2 separate regions of the Homo sapiens genome follow, and region 1 is linked to region 2. Evidence: fine-mapped expression QTL. Tissue or cell type: whole blood. Region 2 holds a variant in brackets; the other region holds the start of a gene. All regions are shown on one strand. Distances are between the middles of the regions. Region 1 holds the start of RGL1 (ral guanine nucleotide dissociation stimulator like 1). Region 2 overlaps RGL1 (ral guanine nucleotide dissociation stimulator like 1).

Region 1 (2,918 bases), 83 kb after region 2:
ACCCCCAATCTATTTGCCAAAGACCTCAAGATGTTTCTAAGAGGTTCTGAATTATTGACAAACCTAGGGAAGATGCTTTTGAAAACATTAAATACAAAAAGAGACCTGTTCAGCTAGTGCAAACACTTGGTCATTAGCATTTTCCTTTTTAAAGCGAAAAGAGGAAAAAAAAAAAAGCCTGCCTCTGTTAAATAATAATGATATTCACAGAACGACAGACACTGAAATTCCAAAGTTCACCATCTCGCCAGCTTTACTCACCCCTAGCCATCTTGCTCCTTTATTGGCAGCCTGTTGAATCTGGACTCTTTTGAGGGTGACATGGTAAACAGCTCCTTCCTCTACCTCTTCACCCCAGTCCTGAATCGAGCTCTGCCAGGGACGGGATAAAGAGAAAGAAAAAGAGTATTTTTTTCCTCTCTGCTAACCACAATCTATCCCAGCTGCCTTGCTGCTTACAACAGCACTCAGGGCACAAGATGGGCTGTTCAAAATAAATATTACAATCCGCAATACAAGACACATTTTGATAGAGGGAATGCTGAGATTTTCTTGGCTTGCAGTCCCTTCCTGTGGTATCAGGATCCCCTGACTTTTCCATTTAGTTATTTCTCCTAGACTTGCTCACATATCTTAAATAGTTTTGTTTTGAAGTCTTTCTTTTTCTTTACAAAGAAACTAGATTAGTCCTGATTAACTTGTCCCCCTTAAGTGAAAGGAAAAATAATTCTTTGTAAAAAAAAAAAAAAAAAAAAAAAAAAAAAAAAAAAAAAAAGAAAAGAAAAGAAAAAGAAAAAGAAAAAAAGAAAAGAATAAGTCTGTACTTTTTAGAGTGGCTCGGTCATTGAAGAAACCAGATTTTAAACTCAGACACAAACAAGTGTTTAAAACGCCAAGAGTCCTCACTCCTTTGGAAGTGAAGTGGTTTGCTTGTCTTTTCTCCTCATTGTTTTGGAGCCCACAAAGTTAGCGGGGGTGGAAAGTTTTTATTTCCGTAAAATAATCTGGCAAGTGCAGAAAAAGCAACACATCATCAGGCAGCTTCTACTAAAATCTGTGCAGCGACCCCCTGGATTTCCATGTCCCCAGCTAAACCTGAGGTTTGTGTTAAAGAGCCGCTGGGACGCAGAAGCGCTCCGCGGTTCACCCACACTAACAGTTCTTTTTCCTTCAAAGTTCTCCCCTCCTGACATGCATCTGCCCCAGACACACCACAGGCAATTGCTGAGAAAGTAGGTACGGTTGAAAGGGAGAAGACACGCAGAGAGAGAGGAATACAAAGCGGAGTGAGAGAGCTTTAGCTCACAAGTATGGAATCGGATTGCTCCGTTCACTCCGAGGGAGTCCAAAACACGCCCAGCGAAAGCGGGAGAAGATTCCCCACCAGAGAAGCCTCGGGAGAAGGCAGAGAGCTCTCGTTACCATTTTAGCTTGCCAAAGCAATTTCATTCTCAGTTTTCTCTCCGGTGCGCGAACGCTGCATGATGCGCCCTGCTCGGAGGCCAACGCAATGTCTGCTGGGCTCAGCCCCGCGGCGCCTCGCCCCGGTCCCGGTCCCGAGCGACCGCAGCGCACAGACACGCGCCGCGCTGCCCCCGCCGCCGCCGGTGCGCGCGACTCGGGCCACAAAGGGAGCGCGGCGAGCGAGCGAGCAAGCGAGGAGCAGACTCCTCCCCACGCCACTCCGTGATGTAAGGCTTTCCTGTTTGTGCTTGTGAGCACACTCTCCCTTTCTTCAGTCCCATGGATAAAGTCAGCATGAAAGCGTTTCTCCAGTTCTGAAGGTGATTGGGAAACAACACTTTCAAGTTTATCAGGTTTTCCTGACGGTCACCAGGTGCCAAAATAGAACTGAGTGTGGGATGGAGGATTTGTGTGTGTCTTCTTCCTTCGCTAAAACAATGGAAGGAGAAAGTCCAAAAAACTTCCATTATCTGCCTATTATCTATTTTGATTTTAGAATAATTAAGTCAGAATGACCCCAGTGAGAGCCGCAATACTAGACGCCAGGAAGTTTTTCATTAGGACAGAGGATAAGGTCAGAGGACACCCGGGTATTCCAAAACCATGCCCAGGGGCTATACCCTCTCCTGCATCAGCACACTGCCAACAGGAAATCGCGCTGGGCTTTTCACCACCCCAATTACCCAGTAACTGGCCATTGGGGGTGGGAAGGGAACAAAGCAGGGTAAGGTTTTGCTAGGACTGACAGTGTCCTGGAGGTTCTGTGAGTCTTTGTGAGTAGCCACCATGGGTTGAGTTGCCTGTACTGTAGGGACACAGTAGGATCATAGCCACAGGGAAAAGTTCTTCATCAGATGACTACCAGCAGGAGTTTTATCATAATGGAAAGATCTGCTATAGGGATAAAAGATTATTACATTTTTTTAGATCCAGTTTTAACAAGTCAACAGCAAGAGATACCAGATAATGCAGTCAAACTTGACACCTGCCAGAATTCCATGCAAATTGCAAATACCTTTAGGGCTCATGTCTTTCATACTATTCACCCTAAATGAATTTAATCACCTTCAAATAAAAAAAAAAATAGGTCTCCCACTAATTGCCATACTATGACATAAGCCTGGGTTTTGGTTAATGGTAAATATATCATGAGCTGACAATTTAGCAAATCAAGTGTACTGATGTTCCCAGGAGAGCAGAATAAATGACAGCAAGGGCACATTAAGCAAAAACAAAAGGATCTGTGGACACTTGAGAACATCTACAAGTCATTCAGCCAGGTTATCCCCATACAACCAGAACCTAAGGGCACCATCACTGTATAGAGAGGAGATGCCCTTTTAGCAAGCTGAAGTGGTTGTTCTATAATTTAAAAAACAAACGAACGAAAAACACATAGACTAAATCCTTCTATGATGATCAGGGCAGAATGTTGCTGGGAACCAGAGGAAAAT
Region 2 (2,918 bases):
CTGAGTAAACTTATGAAACTGAGGACCCAGACCTTCCATTCTGCCCCACTAAGGCAGCCTGGCTGGGAAGCCAGCTGGCATCCCTCTCCTCCTAACTGAAACTGACTATACCACATGTGGTATAGACCATACAGAATTTATAGATTCTTCCCTGATATAGCCTAACTTCCTGACTAGTTCAAACCTGGGCAAACTTGTTGAATGTAGCTGGCCTAGTTGTACTCATGACACAATCCCCAGCCTCTAAATCTGTAGTGACAGAGAATCAGAACTGCCCCCTCCCTCACCTTTCCTTCCTTTGCACAAAGTTCTTTGATCTACAGTGAAGTTCCGGAAATGGAAGTGATGGCAGTAGTGCAAAAATCAGGAAACCAAGTTGTTAATTATTCCAACGGTTGCACCAAGAAATATGAAGAAAAACAGCATAGGATGTGGCCAGTTAATAATTTCAGGTACTTAGGAAAGAACATTTAAAGGTTTTTAATGCCAATAAGATAGTTTTTAAAATGCTGAAACTAAAAGGACAACTAAATAGTTTCCTACTGAACATCAAGAACTAATGTCCTATCTGCACACATTACCCCTTGAGTCCTAAAATAGCTTAGGGCTTTGTAGTGAGGCTGAAAAATAACCAGAAGTAATGGCAAATTGCTGTAACTTCATCACTCCACAACCTTATCCCTCAAAATCCAGATAATAAGCACATCCTTCAAATCATCCCCAAAGCCAATAATCTTGGCTTTGGTATACTTAGAATGAGTTTGATTTCTGCAGGAGCCCTGCCTCAAAAGTCATTAATGATTATGTGTAAGATGCACCCTGCCTGAAACACACAGAGGATTTCAAATATGTTTCTCTAGTTATGCGATACAAGCTTTGAAGGTGAGGACTCATCACAACCACTAATTATCCCGGCCAAAGAAAAGCAGAGCAAACACTTGGGAACTTACCTTGGGACGGCAGCCCAAGTCTTTTTTAACCGATAGATGGAATTAGACTGCAGTGCCGAAACGATGGCCCTCAAGGAGGAAAAATTCTTCAGGAGTCTACATTCCTGCATGGGGAGTGATTAAAACATAAAAGGCATTTAACTATCAATATTACAATGACTTGGTGGTTTCCTGTTTTAGAGGTATCACAGCTGCTATGAATTCTTACCACAAAATAGGCAGCTGTATAAATAGTGAACATCAAAAAGTGGCTCCTTCCTCCCACCCCAGTCATC[G/A]AAACACTTTATAGATTTTGGCACAGTATGCTTGTTTTTCTCTCGTCAATATATTTTTTTGTGTTGTTGTTACAGTTTTATAGTTTCCAGCTTTCCTAGTAAAAACACTAATGGAGGTAAGTCTACAGAGCTATGCTAGAAAGAGCAACTTTCTTCTGCTGAAAGCACACAGATGTCCTAAAAATATGCACTTTAGATCTTCTTTAGATCCCAAAATGAGCTGGGCAGCAGCCACTTTGAGGTCAGATGGTATTGAACATCTCATCACCAACCCTTGTCCACAGAGGTGTATATAATTTGGCAATAAAAATTCACCACAAGTTGAACTTTGGCTTTTATGCTCTTAGCCAAGGGGGGATATTTTTATACACATTCATTTGGTTTCAAATTGGCTTGTCCTGCAACCATAAACATTCAAAAACACCTTGGTACTTCAATGCTTCCAAAATAACTCGGCCTTTTAAAATAAAATTCATTTTGGCAATGTTTTAAAACAAAATAGAAAGAGAACAGGAAACATTCTGGATGCCATTTTCTGGGTAAGGAGAGAGGCTCCCTATTTAAACTTAAGCTACCATAAGGAGCCTGTAGCATCAGCAGTTAGTGACCTTGGAGTCAAAGTCCTGTGACTGAATAGCAGGGACAGCAAAACAGACAGGGAGAAAGTCCCATTCTTGGCTGGCATGGGGAAGGTAGCAACGTGAGGAGACTGGACCAGGCCTTATGTCAAAGGAGATGCTTCATATACAGGCACATGACAGCGTACTAGGCCCAGTGTTTACAAGTGAGTACACCATGTGAGCACGTATTTGGTTTTGTGTAGAGTATCTCAGGTAAGAAGTCCCAGAGTGATTGGGCATAAATGTAAATCACTTCGAGAATCATTTCACAAAGAAATGTTAATCCTGAATACGAAGGAAAAACAGCACTCTAATTTAGCATGCCAAAATCTGGACACTGAAAACTATGCCAAACAAACCCTCAAACATTTTCTTTAGAGTAAATGCCAAAGTACTTAATAAAAGTCATGTCCACCCTTTTTAAATGCCTCAATGTCCTCCCCTTATTTGGAAAGATATAAAGAGAAAGAGAGAAGAAGGAGGGGAAGGAGGGAGGGAGGGAGGAAAAGAGGGAGGGAGGGAGGGGAAGAGAGAGAGAACAAGAGAAATGTTCTGAATTGCAATCTGGAAACTAAGCCTATGGGAGCATGGTTCAACAAAGGTTCACAAAAGTTATATTCTAAAAATCAGGAAACTTGCAATAAAAAAAGGAACTCAGGAACAGATACATCATGCAAATTGAAATAAACACATGGAACACATTATTCAAAAAGAGGTTTAAACTAAGGGTTTAAAGGAGTACAAAAGGCATCTGGTCCCATTTCTAGAAAAAGAGGCATCTTCCAGGAGATGTGATGCAAAAGTAAAAACATACCATTAAGGGCAGTCCAAGAAAATATAGTCATATTAGGTCAGAAAAATTTTCTTTTTCAAATATCCTTTCAATAGAAATTGACTACGATGAATGCAGGAAAGGTAAAATAAATCTTGGTAGCAAACCACTGGTAAGCCTCATTATTTTATTACATTTCCCTACACAATTGTAAAAGATACAACATACTCAGTATTAGGAAGTGATATCACCAAAAAAAAAGTAAGAGCCCTTGGCTTTATTAGCACATGATATGGGATTT

What was found. PIP is the estimated chance that this variant, and not a neighbour inherited with it, causes the effect.
Region 1: it holds the start of RGL1, and the variant in region 2 is fine-mapped to the expression of RGL1 in whole blood (TOPMed, PIP above 0.99).

Annotation. Positions count from the first base shown.
Region 1 is chr1:183,803,829-183,806,746 of GRCh38, reverse strand. RGL1 (ral guanine nucleotide dissociation stimulator like 1) reads right to left here and starts at 1,627. Exons shown (of 18, transcript NM_001297671.3): 1 at 1,423-1,627; 2 at 262-372. The coding sequence starts at 1,449. RefSeq lists an enhancer at 1-7.
Region 2 is chr1:183,886,610-183,889,527 of GRCh38, reverse strand. It overlaps RGL1 (ral guanine nucleotide dissociation stimulator like 1), which reads right to left. Exons shown (of 18, transcript NM_001297671.3): 8 at 951-1,054. Among named protein-coding and RNA genes, the nearest start is that of RGL1, 83 kb to the right of the region's middle. The variant G/A (reference allele first, on the strand shown) is at 1,226.